2 linked regions of the Homo sapiens genome follow. The protein of the gene in region 2 interacts with the protein of the main gene of each other region in a biochemical or structural test. Each region holds a gene or a part of one and is shown on either strand. Other genes may lie near its edges.

The links. Proteins that work in one complex are often made in the same cells at the same time.
Region 1: the proteins of TIMP3 (region 2) and MMP2 form a complex in vitro, tested with the Homo sapiens proteins (one study listed by BioGRID).

What each region holds. Positions count from the first base shown.
Region 1 is NC_000016.10:55,496,198-55,503,197, forward strand, and holds part of MMP2 (72 kDa type IV collagenase isoform 1 preproprotein), read left to right. Parts: intron 1-728; coding exon 729-865; intron 866-2,091; coding exon 2,092-2,251; intron 2,252-6,581; coding exon 6,582-6,691; intron 6,692-7,000.
Region 2 is NC_000022.11:32,797,481-32,804,788, reverse strand, and holds the start of TIMP3 (metalloproteinase inhibitor 3 precursor), read right to left. Parts: upstream 3,085-7,308; 5' UTR 2,788-3,084; coding exon 2,667-2,787; intron 1-2,666.

The DNA.
Region 1 (7,000 bases), on a different chromosome or scaffold from region 2:
TTCTCAGGTGACGCAGATGCTGCTGGTCAGGAGACTGCACTTTGAGAACCAGTGGCTTATACCAATCAGTATCTACCCCTAGAATGGGGGTAGGGGACACAGGGTCAGAGGAGGTGAAGGCTGGATCATAAATGTGGAGTTTTGTGAAGAAGGATGGTGGGGAAATAGATAATTAATGCTAGGTAGACCATCCAGAGTGCATGCTGTCTTAAAAGATTGTGGGGATTAAATTACAAGGCACATAAATAAAGCACATGGCATTTAGTAGGACCCTCAATAAATGATAACTCTTACTCTTGACAAAGTACACAAATTCATTTCATTTTAATTCAGGAAATACTTGAGTGTCATCAGCTCCTGCCCCAATTGGCCTCTAATCAAATAGGAGAGTTAAGACAAACAGACACTACTGTTCCAGGCACTCAGAGTTGATGATTTTGAGAGGCTTAGAGAGGGAAAACACAATATGGATGGAGGTAGTCAGGGAAGGCTTCCTGGAGGAGGTAGAGGGAGAGAACAGGGTAGGAGGATGTTTCTCAGCTCCAGCAGATTGCAGACAGGAACTCTGCCCGTTCTCCAGTCCTTCTCCAACCTTCCTTTGATCCTGCCTCCCACTCCCATCATGGAATCATCTCTGGGATGTTTCTGGGTGGGTTTGGGGGTGTGTGTGGTTCGAGCTGCAGGGTGACTGAAGATGTGGTTTCCTGTGCCCCCTTGCCTCCTGCCAGGTTCATTTGGCGGACTGTGACGCCACGTGACAAGCCCATGGGGCCCCTGCTGGTGGCCACATTCTGGCCTGAGCTCCCGGAAAAGATTGATGCGGTATACGAGGCCCCACAGGAGGAGAAGGCTGTGTTCTTTGCAGGTGTGTGGGAAGCACCCTTCCTTGGCCCTCAGCTCCACAGGGCTCTGCACCAGGGCTCCTGGGTGTCCCAGGCTCACTCCCCCTCTCAAACCACAGTTCCTATGCACCCGTGGGTGCTCCCTTTCCTTTATGGATTCATTCTTTCAACATTATTTCCTGAAGTGCGCAGCTCCTCTGGGAGATTGGTTCCGACACCCAACATCAGATAGCATTAACCCTCAGTGTACACATTTCATTTTCTTAATTCTTTTCAATCCGTCTCATTTCTTTTCTAGAAGAAAAAAAGTCTCAGTTTAGTGCTGGTGTGTCCCTAACGCCTTTGTAGTGATACAGTCTTTGGCAGGTAACAGTTTTAGTTCGAATGTTTTAAAGAATATTTGTTTTCATTTTTACTTTTAGACATAAATTGGTTTTAACAGAGGCAGTTAGTTATAATAGTGTGGAGTTTCAAATCAGGACAGAAACGGATTATTCAGTAACTGATATTTTGACAGTCAAAAAACATTTTTTAATAAATTTATTTTTAAAGATTTCAAAATGAATTCACTGAAAGCAGAATGTTAAGTAAATAATAGTACAGGGAGCCCCTAGAAGTGGTAGAAATCATCAAGGTGAGGTCTGTATGGCTAAGGTTTACTCATTTAACATTTATTGGAGCATTTCCATGCGCTGGGCTTTGCCATACCCTGGGGATACAAGCTCTGCCTTCGCGATGCTCACAAACCACTCAGGGAGACAGACAGCTGGGCTCTTATGAGGGGTAAAGAAGGATTTAGGAGGTCCCTGTCCTGGTCTGAGGTGGGATCCTAGAGAAGATAAAGGCTCAGCCAAGACTATTGTCTCCACCACCTGGCTCCCACCTCCCCCAATCCACCGTAATCATGGGTCCCGGAGAGGACAACTGCTGGCTCCTAGGGCACCTTTTTGCAAATTAGCAAAAGGTGCCTCTTTATGACAGCAAGGCCCTTAGAGTGCACGACTTGGTGAGCAGAGTGTGAGCTGGATTTATCCCCCAACTCATGTCCTTGACCAGGCACCTTCTGTAATTGACTTCTAAAGCCCTCTGTGTGAGCCCTGATTCTGGGCACTGCAACCAGGAGTGAGCAGGAAGTTGCACTCTGTTGGGAATGGCTGCAGTGGGGCCCGTGGACAGACAGATGATGGGAGGAACAGGCTGGCCTAGGGCATGTCAGCACCAGCCAACACACCCTTTGCTTCCACCCCAGGGAATGAATACTGGATCTACTCAGCCAGCACCCTGGAGCGAGGGTACCCCAAGCCACTGACCAGCCTGGGACTGCCCCCTGATGTCCAGCGAGTGGATGCCGCCTTTAACTGGAGCAAAAACAAGAAGACATACATCTTTGCTGGAGACAAATTCTGGAGGTAAGGGAGGGCGGTGGGTAGGACAGCAGCACAGTTGGCTGCGAGAGACAGAGAAGCCGCCCTGAGGCTTCAAGCCTCCTGGGCTGAGTTCAGAGGTTGGTGGGCTCTGGATGCCCTCTCTCTGGTATCTAACCTCTTTGGTCTCTGGCACCTCTGAGATGTTGCCAAAGGTGAACCATTCTTGTACACATTGCTGATATAATTCTGGTGGAATATCCTTTCTCTTTGCAGAATTCTTTTGATTGGCCCATGTCTGGTCTGGACCCTCACATTTTGAAATGACTCACTGAAGAAGGGGGTAATAAAAATAAAGATAATAACTGCTCCTATTGACACTATGTGTCAGAGACTGTCCCAAGGGTTCTATGGGATAGGAATTATTATTCCTCCCATTTTACAGATGAGGAAACCTGGGTTCAGAAAGGTTAGGTAACCGTGGCTGGGCACAGTGGCTCACGCCTGTAATCCCAGCACTTTGGGAGGCCAAGATGGGTGGATCACTTGAGCTCAGGAGTTCCAGATCAGCCTGGCCACATGGTGAAACCCCATCTCTACTAAAAATGCAAAAAAATTAGCTGGACATGGTGGTGCATGCCTGCAATCCCAGCTACTAGGGAGACTGAGGCAGGGGAATCACTTAAACCTGGAAGACAGAAGTTGCAGTGAGCTGAGATCATGCCACTGCACTCCAGCCTGGGCAACAGAGTGAGACTCCAACTCAAAAAAAAAAAAAAGAAAAAAGAAAGGTTAAGTAACCAGCTTGGAGTCACATAGCCAGGTAGGGACAGGTTGGGATTTGAACCCTGGCATTCTGTCTCCTGGGAAAACATGTTAGTCTTCACTCTTCACTACTATTCTATACCCGAGATGGTGGAATGGGGGTTCCAAGAGATGGGGGAACATGAAGGCAGTGGACAAAATATGAAGAAGACTTAGAGATGGGTGCACCAGTCATCCATAGAAGCCAGCATCCAAATCAGACCCCATGGAAGGAGCAGGTGCCCTGTGTCATGCTCACAGCAGGCCCGTGGCTGTGGGTGCAGGTTGGCAGGGGAACAATTTGGAAGCAGATGGTTCTGTGCTCCAGGTTATCTACAGGAAAGGGTCCAGTTCTGAGGGGCTATAGTCATGACCAGGGAACCTAATATCCAGGAGTGGCTGGTGAGAGGTAGCCCAAACCTCAGGAGTTTGACTGTAATTCTTCACACTTTCTAGAAAAGGAAACGGAGGTCCAAAGAAATTAAATAACTTGTTCAAGCTATAGAGATATGTGTATTTGCACAAAGCCAGGATTATAGCTACTTCTCTTGTATTCTAACTGAGTACCCCCTCCACTATACCTGCCAGTCCATTTGATTAGTGAGGAAAGAGTGGTCGGGGCACAAAGACTTGTGGTGTGTCTTTCCATCCCCTCCCTCCTGGTATCCCCACATTCCTTCCATGGCTGCCACTGCATCTGGGCCCTACCCAAGAATTTTAGAGGGCACTTCCTGAGGCCTTTGTCTGCCATCCCCAAAACAATCCCGCTTACTTCCTAAGGCCTCTGTCTTCTCCCCCTTCCCTCCTCCCCACTACTCTGCCCCCCAGCTGCCCTGCATTCAGAAACTCTTTATATCCCAGGCCTGCCCATGTCAGGGTGGAATTCCAGACATATTGCTAAGACACTTAGCAACCTAAGCTGATTGATATCTCAAGCCTCAAGAAAGAAAACAGTCAGGCAGGAAACCACAGAGCAGGCTTTCCACCCACCAGCTCCAGACACTAGCCCCAGACAGTGTGCACGCACACGCACACACACACACGCGTACTGCGAATGGCATCTCAGCATTGTAGGAGCCCTGAATCTCCAAGTCTTAGAATTGTGGCTGGTGAGCCGCACAGACTCACAGAAACGTGAATCTTAGAATCCTAAAGCCCTGAAGTTTTCAAATTATGGTGTTGGAAGAACTTTTTAAATCACTTTTCCATGCACTGTATCTATGTAAACATGCAAAAACAGACCTGTTCCTAGCATATAGGAACATGATTGTGTGCGCATGTGCGCATACACACACACACACACACACACACACACACACACACACACACACAGGCATGGAGGTTGTGGCAGTGCCTTGCTGGATTTCCAGGCAGAGTTATTTGCCTCCCAGTCCTTTTCCACACAAGCCCACCTCCCAAAGCCAGAGCCAGGACAGACAGCGTGCTCTACAGAGGAACCACCCTGAGACTTCCTGAAAAGGGACAGAGCTGAAGGGCCTATCAGAAGCTCTGGGCTGGCTTCCAAAGGAGACAGATCTCTATTCCAAGAGAAGTGGTGAATGAGCTTGTGACACTGGCCCTGCCGTGGAGTCTGCAGAGGCCCCAGAGGCATCTTTGCTGGAGAAGGAGAGAGAGCCCCAGAGTGACAGAGGCTGAGCAGCTGTCTTCAGCATGCCAAGAAGAGCTCAGGCCCTGCTTGTAGAAGCTTTCACTAAGCCACAAATATATGTTCCACATCTGCTGTGTGCCAGGCACTTAGCTAGCTGCTGGAGAGACGGGGGTCAAAAAATCATCACACCCTGCCCTCATGTAGTTTATAGTAGAATGAGGGAAAATTATGTAAACACATTTGAATCAGATAATGATGGCTCTCAGTATGGGGCCTCTACCATAGCCCAGCCTGAGGCTATGCAGGTCACCTATATTTCTCAGTTGAGGTAGATACTGTTAGCTCCTTTTCCCAAGTGTGGAAACTGAGGCTAAAGTGGCTCAAGGAAAAGCTGGGACACAAATATCTGTGTTCTTAACACCTGCTATACATGGCAACTTCTACAGCTGCAGAGAAGTACCACATCTTCTGACACCACAGTGCTTGTATTCTTTCTGGATGAAAAGAACTTGGAAGCAAACTAATTCTCTTATCTGAGACTCAGTTTCCTCATCTGTAAAATGGGCTTGACTTCTGCCATCCCCACCTTCTGTGGGTAGAATGAGAAAGAAATGAGGGCCAGTTCAAGTGTGGGACACACATCTCCAAACTATCCTAACGCTAGGGAATGTAGTTTGAGGGCTCAGTGGAGGTGCCTTGGATGGGAGTGTTGGGATTTTGAGCTAGGGAACTTGGTTTTGGTGACCCAGGGCATGAGGAAGCATGCCAGGTTTTGTAAGAATGAGTTTTATGCTGCACCTGGGATTAAGGAAGGCGTTAGTTCTTCGGGGTGATGGCTGAGGGAGAAGTCCCTTTGAGGGAGAAGTCTCCTCTAGAAGGGAGCATATAGGGAAAGCTGCTGTTGGGGTCCAGGGTGGAGGTGGTCAAGGCTGGCTGCAGAAAGGAAGGGAGCCCCCTAGGAGGCACTGTGGAGCAAAAGGTGGCTGCTACCAGGATGGGATGCGAACACAGATTCATCTAGAAACAGCTCCACTTGGGCAAGACTTGTTTACTAGGATATCCATAGCTCCCATAGTGGGAGCTCAGTAAATATTTATGGAATAATGAAGTGGAGAGGCAAAGGAATCAACATGACAGCAGCATTTAAAAAGTTCTCCAAAAATCTTAAAAGACAGAAGGATTGCTAGCCAGGGAGAAGAACATACTAACCGATGCCCAAAGTATTTACCTGAATTAAAGGCGGGGCCCAGGATTGCTGCCGCCGGAACTGAGGTGGCATGTGGCCCACCCTGTGACTAACAGGCCTTGGACTTACACGTACCTTCCACCTTGCATTGTAACCTCACTGCCCCAGCCATGGTCATCTCCCAGGGCAGGGACTGTCATCTCCCTGTGGCAGATGAAGAAGCAGCAATTTTTCCAAGCCATGAAGTGAAAGAATGATGGGGCAGATTCCCATCCCTGGGCTTCTAGTTTAGCACTCCTCGGATTACAGCAGGGATTTGTTTGTAAGGGAGCTAACATTTCTTAAGTACCTACTAAATATTTATGAGACATGGGGATAGAGGCTCTGCATGTGCTGTTTTATTTAATGCATGCATTAAATTAAATACACTAAATTAGACACAACCCCATTTTACAGCTGGTAAAACTGTAGCTGTATGGAAAGTGGTTAACACACTGTTTGGCATGTAGTAAGTGCTTTATAAATGTTAGCAGTAATCATGAGATTGTTTTTATGGGGTCATCCAAAGTCATATAATTAAAAGTGGTAGATCTGAGGCTCAGACTCAGGTCTGATTCCATGCCCTTCCTTCCACTGCAGCTGGCTGCTTCCCTGAAGGGCTAGGTCCAGTTTCCGAGGCCTATCCAGGAGCCATCAGCTGGGTGCTCCCATCCAGGCCAGGGGGGAAGTGTCCTTTAGAGAGGCCCTGCTGGTTCACTGTGTCTGTTTCTTTACAGATACAATGAGGTGAAGAAGAAAATGGATCCTGGCTTCCCCAAGCTCATCGCAGATGCCTGGAATGCCATCCCCGATAACCTGGATGCCGTCGTGGACCTGCAGGGCGGCGGTGAGCCACCCAGGACTGTCTCCGCTTTCTAGGACTCCCCGCCCCTAGCCAGGGCCCAGCTCCTTGCAAATACACACTTCTTTATTGTGCAGGGCAGGCAGGCAGGCGGCGCCCAGGAAAACAAATCAACTCCTTCATCCTAGTGCTGGGAAGGTTTCCAGATCCCTGACCTCTGCTCCTTGGCCTGGCTCCAGGCAGTAAGACCCAGAAAGACTTCTCACAGCTGCAGGGCCTGGAGCCAGGGCAGGGGAGGGCGGAAGGCCTGGGCCAGGGGAGAAGGAACATGGGCTCTGTGCCGTGGATTCATTC
Region 2 (7,308 bases):
ATAAGCCGGCATGTAGTTTATTCTTCTCCTAAACACTTCCATAGGGTGCAGGGCCTGGAGTTGCCATAGAAACACCTTTTAACTCCTCCTCCCCCAGAATGCCATGCCAGGCCCTAGGACTTTGGGGAAAAAAGACAAAAAGAGACACCTGTGGATGAGCAGAGACAGGAGGAAAGGCCATCGGGCAGCCCCCCGGAGAGGACCAGGCCAGGCCTCCTGTGCCTTTTGCTAGGCCAACATGGCACCAAGCCATGAAGAGAAAACCACCATGATGGTTTTAAAACAGGAAGTTGATGGGCTGATGTGAACACCTTTAGGGGGCTACAAAGTTGACTGGTGGGGTTGTGTGGGTCCCAAGGAATGGGGAGCTCCTTCATATTTGTTTGAGGGCGAGAATAGACAGTTTCAACCCAGACTGGAAACCAGAAAGGCTCTGAGCAATGAAACTTGGGAGCCAAGTACTGGACGCCAGCAGGGTGCTGTGCAAGGCGAGGGAGGTCGGCAGGCAAGCAGCTCACACCCACACCTCCCATTTTAAAAGCATTAGCTCATCCCTGCCACTAGTGCAGCTCACCAAACCCAGGCAGAACAATTTGGGATCCGTGCCAGAGCATCGAAGATTTTTTGTTTCTTTTTTTCTTTTTGATTCCACAATCTCCTGGTCTTTGGCTACTTCCTGGTAACTTAGATTTTCTCTGAGAAATTTATGAAGAGGAGCGAGGGAGCTATTTCTTGTTTCAATCCAGAGAAATTGTAAGAAACTTTCTGCATTGCTCAGACCCACCGCAGGAAACCTAAGCAGTAAGCAGACGGGAAGGCCCCCATTGGAAGCAGGATCTACTCATGCTTGTTTTCACTTTTCCGTGGTCAATTTTTAGGGTAGAAACCCCAAAGCAAAGGGCAAGGGGGAAGAATGGGGACCTACTCCCACTACATACCAAAAAAACGCAAGTGAAGTCACCCAGCCCATTTTCCAGCAGAAAAGGACTTGGGCTGCACCCCTGCACACCCTGATTCCACCTGCCAGCCTCCTGGCCGCACGTGTGTGATCCTGCTGGGCAAAACCAGAACTCAGCTGCAGCAGCAACTCCCCACACTAATCAGGTGGGAATGTTACCAACTGGGATGAGGAGGGAAAGGGTAAGTGGAATGTGGGTGGAGGTGGAGGAGGGAGGAAAACCCTCCCCAGTCTTCAGGCTGCCCAAAAGGATCTTTCTAAGCAATCCACAAATCCTGGGCCAGCTGGGTTCCCCCAGGAGAGGGGAGGATGTACCATGCAGGCCCCAGGGAGCCTCTTACAAGGGTGACCTCAGGTCACACAAACACCCTCAGCTGCCAACTGCACTGACATTCTGGTCACCACACCCCCACTCTGACCTCTAGGCTCAGCCCAGCCCACCAGCAGTGCCCCTCCCGGCCCTCACTGCCTCCCCTGCCAAGCTCCTACCTCCTCCCCCTCCTCACCACAACACGCTGGTAGAGTCCCTCACCCAAGACTCAGTGGAAAATTTCCTTCTCCTTTATGACTGTACTTAAAACACACACGCTCCATTCTTCACCTCTGAATCGACACAGGCAGAGGGCGGCAAGGCTGTCCCACCCCACCGCCCAGCCCAGCCCAGTGCACACACACACACTCTCCCAGCAGAGCCACTGGACTTGCACGCTTTATGGGCTGGAAAGGAGGAGAGAGATGTTTCCCAGATGCCACTCCACCTTTAGCCATCCAAACACAAGTGTCCCAAACACTCCCAGACAAGCCTCCCAGGATGCTCTCGGGGCCCTCCATACACACTAAGGAGTAGGAGGTCTCTTTACAGGGTCTCTCTACTCAAGACACTAAGTCCAGTCTGGAACTGTCACCGTGATGTGACCCTTGGCAGGTTTGTTCTTTTGGTGACAAATCTGTTTTCCACTACCCATTCTCCCCCTCCCCACACACATTCAAGGGGGAAAAAAATAGCCTTCCTGTGAATTTTCACAGCTATGTGGTGAGTGACCCCTCGCACCTTCTGCTGGCTATCAACACTCTCAAACACAGTGCCTCCAGGGCGTGGGTCAATGCCACAGCTTTCTCCTCATTTTCCCCCTTAAATCCACCCAAACTTGGCAGTCCCAGAAGCTCGGTTAGCGCTTGCCTGGGAAGCCTGCAGCTGGGTTGGGTCTCAGTGAAAAGAATGAATTTCATAGGCGCAGGAGATGATGCAGACTCGGAGTACTCCAAGTTTCTCCTGCAACTTTCCGTGCACATGGCGGGCAACTTTTTTTTTTTTTTTTAACTATTCAATTTCCCAGCACTTTAGTTAGCATTCCAAGTTTTGGGAACCCTTTCCCCACCCTTCTCTTCTAGCCCTTCCTCCGTTAGTAGTGAATGGGGACATTTTCCAGATGTCAAAAGGACCGGTAGGAACCTCACGACCTAAGTTAGGAAAGCAAAGGCGGCCAGGGGCTCCCTCAGCCACTGTGAGTTTCCTCTGCAGGGCATCTTCCCCTCTCAGCTATGCCAGCGCCCCCGCCCAAGGACATCGAGTTTCTCCACTCCGCCCCAACCCCGTCTGCCCCTCTCCTGGGGCAGAGGAAAGGAGTGGGGCTCGCCCTGCCTCCCTAAGCAGCGCTGCAGTCCTGGCTGCAGCGTGGGGCTCGGGCGGGGCACCAGGAGCGCTTACCGATGTCGGAGTTGCAGAAGGCGTCCTGGGGGTGGCTGGGCGAGCATGTGCACGCCTCGGCGCCCCAGTCCCCCAGGCTCCAGCTGCCCAGGAGCACGATGAGCCCGAGCCAAGGGGTCATTGCCGCTGCTGCCGCCGCTGCCGGGGCTGCTGCTCGCCTCTCCAAAGTTGCCGTGCGCGCCGCCGGCGGGGCTGCTGCAGCCCGAGCTCGCTCGCCCGCCGGGCCGTGCGGGGCAACCTTGGCCTCCGGCGCGCTGCCCTCCGAGTGCCCGGCGGGACGGGATGGGGCGCAGCGAGGCTGCCTCGGCGCTGGCGCAGGACTCGGCGGGCGGCCTCCCGGCGAAGGAGCAGGAGCTGGAGGAGCAAGAGGAGGAGGAGAAGCCGTCTGAGCGCCCGCCGCCTGCCTGCTGCCCGCTCTGCGCCGCTGCCTGGGCGGCCGAGTGATATAGCGCTGGGCCCCCGGGGACCCCGCCTCGGGCTGTTGGGGCCCGCCCCCTCAGACCAATGGCAGAGCCGCATTACCTCATCGGCCCTCCAAAAAGGGGGCGGGGCCGGGGGCAAGGGGTAACGGGGCGGGGCCGCCCCCGGATCGTTCAGATCCTTATAGGGAATAATGCCGCCGTGGGCACGCGAGTGGGTGGGCTGGGGCGCGCCCGGGACCGGTGCTTGCCGCTGGGTCCTCGGAGCGGAGCCCTCGTGCCCCTTCTCGTCTGCGCCCTGGCCCCACGCCCACCTGGGCCACTGGGTGTCTCTGACCCAAACCAGAACCAACTAACACCCACCCACCCCAGCAGGACCGCTTCCACAGGTGAGGGGTGGCCATGTCCTAGAGACCTTGACTGTGCTTGGTGGAACCAGCGGGGGAATGCTAACTGCTACCCCTCCAGTTTCTCTGGAGAGAGCAGGCACAGAGGAGAAAGACCCAAACTCTCTCTCTTTCTCTCTCTCTCTGGTTCTTACTCTCTGGGATATGGGAAGCCATCTGCTGTTTGCAGCTGGCTATGATATATGATAGAAGACTGTTTTCTGTGCTCTCCCAGAGCAAACGGGGTTCTGTATTCATTCAACAAACACGGTTCAGGATGCTGGGTTAAGCAACACAAAGCCCTTGCCCCCGTGGACATCCATGAATGCACAGGGTGATTTTCTGTGATGCTAGGGCTATGAAGAAAACAAAACAGAGTTCTGGGTTGGACATGACTGGGGAGGGCCTGCTCTCTCTGCGATAGTAAGGGAAGGGCTCCCTGAAGTGCCATCCTCGCTGAGAAGTGGACAAAGACAAGGATCAGCTCTGGGGCAAGCCACAGGAGAGAGGTACCAGGCAGGGGGAACAGCAAGTGCAAAGACCCTGGGCATGTTTGAAAGACAGAAAGTAGAAAGGCAAGAGGAAGTGGTTCCCTGCCCATGGCTGACAGAGCTCCACCCTTCAGCAAGGGATTTGGGGGTGAGCTGATCCAAAACTGTAGTAAAACCAGGAGAACGATCCAGGATCCTAGACGACTAGCTATAATAGATGATTGCAGATAACTAACACAATTACTATCCTTATTATTGACATCTTGATTCTGCTTTGTATTTTTAAAAGCAGGATTCTGTATCTCACCGTATTATAGCTCTCACAATAATCTTTGTGGGTAGGAAAAGCAAGCACAAGTATCACTCCCACTTTCCAGATGAGGAACCGGCACAGAAAGATGGGATGATTGGTGGCCAGCCAGGAACTCGTCACCCCTTTCCACTGCTCCTTCCCATCTGAAGAGAGACATGCATTTCCCTGAACGTCAGCAGCTGTTCCATCTAACTGCAAATGGCCATTTGCAGCTGGGATCTTCCATCTTTCTACACTTTTGTCTCTTTCCCTTTCTCTTCCGCTTCATCCTGTTAGAAATGCCACAAGTTTGGAACAAATAGAAACAGGGAGAAATGCAAGTTCAGCTTCTTTCTCAGAACTCCTCTGTTTACATCTCAGACAAGTGACATTGGGACAGCAGAGGCCGAAGAATTCGTGAGAGATGGTATTTCCAAGAACATTTTTGAAACTCCTTTTTCCCCTTTGAGCACTTTAGCCATAGGAAAGGGAAACCAGTTTCCACATCTTTTTGACTTGTCCCCTCCACCCAGCTTTAAAAACCTTCCCTGCCTTCACTCTAACTGTGGCCTAACTCGTAGAGATGTTTCTGTCTCTCGATGTTTTTCTAGCACTGTTTTCATTGTTTTATGGGGTATGATTCTATTGCTTCCCCAACCACAGTAGGAATACTTTGAGGCCTGGGATATTTAGCCACACTGCTTTTTAGCCCTCTCAGAACCAAATAGGGTCTCAGGAGACTGGAGAGCATGGGTGTGGCCAACAGCTGACTGAGTCCTGAGCAGAGTGCCCTGGAGGCCACTCTAAGGATCCAGGTTGAATGAGGGCATACGTGGTGGAATTTGAGAGATTCGCTTATCCCCGCGCCCCACATGACTTATTCCACAGTCATGTGGAAGGTTTTAGAAGACTTTCCAGACCAAATCCACTTTGGATAAGCATCTTACATGATAGAGGCCCTCTCTTCCCTTTCTTTTCACATTTCAGTTTTGTCCAAAGTGCCGATATTTTCTCCAACGGAAGGCCTTGCCTGGAATATAAGTATCAAGTAGATAACTTCTGCTGAACTTCAAGCAGCAGTTTTCTCATAGAAAGCATCTGAAGCGTTTTTTTCCAGCAGCTACTTAATTATGAAAGCACAAGTATAATCTGATCTTTTTTCCAGCTGAAAAGTAACGAAATTACCTTTTGGTTAATTTCTTCTCACTCCCTATCCTAAGCTGGTCCACACAGTGTCTTGAAGTTCAGCGAATTCCAAGAGCTTTTCAGTTGGGATGTTCTCTCTTATTCCAAACCTGAGTCAGTTCCCCTCTGCCCACCGTGTGAAGGCAGTTTGGTTCTCACCCTAAGGAAAAGAAACAGCAAACTCCATGAATCCTTGCGTAGGGGAGTCCTCCTGCTAGGGTCACCCCCTTCAGCAGGCACCCATCAGTCTGGATGTCATGGTGTCCATGAGCCTAATAATATGTAAGAATTGGTTATTCAACATCACTTAATAAGCTAGGTGGGGTGAACCTGAGGCTAACAGTAAGAATGAAGATGCAGGCTGGGTGCGGTGGCTCACGCCTGTAATCCCAGCACTTTGAGAGGCCAAGGTGGGCGGATCACGAGGTCAGGAGATCGAGACCATCCTGGCTAACATGGTGAAACCCCGTCTGTACTAACAACACAAAAAATTAGCCAGGTGTGGTGGTGGGCGCCTGTAGTCCCAGTTACTTGGGAGGCTGAGGCAGGAGAATGGCGTGAACCTGGGAGGCGGAGCTTGCAGTGAGCTGAGATCATGCCACTGCACTCTAGCCTAGGTGATGGAGTGAGACTCCGTCTCCAAAAAAAAAAAAAAAAAAAAAAAGAATGAAGATGCAGGCTCTCCTGCTTTCTCTTGACAGCTAAGAACAATGATAGAGTTATACATCTGGGAAGAACTGAGTAAGTTTCAAGATCTATCTGGCCTGTCTACACACCTACTAGGATGACCTGGTATTCTCTTTCCTGGAACTTTTCTAGGAAAGGTGAGTTCATATCCACCCTCTTTGTATCAAGTTATAGGATGCTAGAGTCTGTAGGAAGAGAAGTCGTAAAAAGGACCTCAGAAACTACTCATCCTTGTTTTAAATGTGGGAAAAATAAGGTTCAGAGAAGTGAAGGAACTTGCCCATTTTCAGGGCTCAGTCCTCCAAGCTGTAAGGTGTGGCCCATGCTTGTACTGTGGGCTTGGAAACCCCAGCCATTCACAGATCTCGTATCTGCTTTTCAGATCTGTAGACAGATTCGTTTGAGTCTTTGTACAGTGCCCAGCCCACAGAGAAATTTTACTTACACTGATTAAATAATTCTCTACCATGATAATAATCACCCTCTGAGCCAATCAGAAGCAATACAGGTTTGTCCTCCTGACAGGTTTATCTCTTGTGTGTTTATTTTTTTCCCTTCCTAAATTACTAGCTAATGCATTCCAAACATATCACTATAAAAAAAAGCACATGAAAACTTTGTTTCTGGGAAATGAAAAGAGAGTAAAGTGGAAACAAAAAATCAAAAGACCTGAGATTTGTTCCCAATGTTGCAGAATAGCTGTGCACCTGCCTTGGTCAAGTCACTTTGCCTGTCCAGGCGTCCACTTCTGTGTTTATTGGATGAAAGATAGAACTCAGTGGTATCCAGGATCCCTCTCGCCTCAAAAACTCCAAGATTCCATGGGGAATCCTGTAGGACAAGTGAATGCTTCTGAAGGGGAGATGGGTCCTGCCATTTAAACAGGTTTGACACATGGGAACGTACCCAAGACTGAAGACCATCCATCAGTTTCGCAACGAACACTGAGTTCCTATATTGCTACCTCCCCCAAGAATCAATGCCGAAAACAGAATTTCAGAGAAGATTGTGATGCCAAAGTCCTAGGAGAGACAGGCTCTGGCTTATGGTGGAGCCCAGTGTAGTTATGCGTTCACCTGCTTGTTTGTCTCTTGGATCGTAGCACTAAAAAGTTAGGAAGGTGTCTTTTTTATCACCATTTTTTTGGTCTTCAGGAGTTACTGAACTCTTCCACATCCTTCA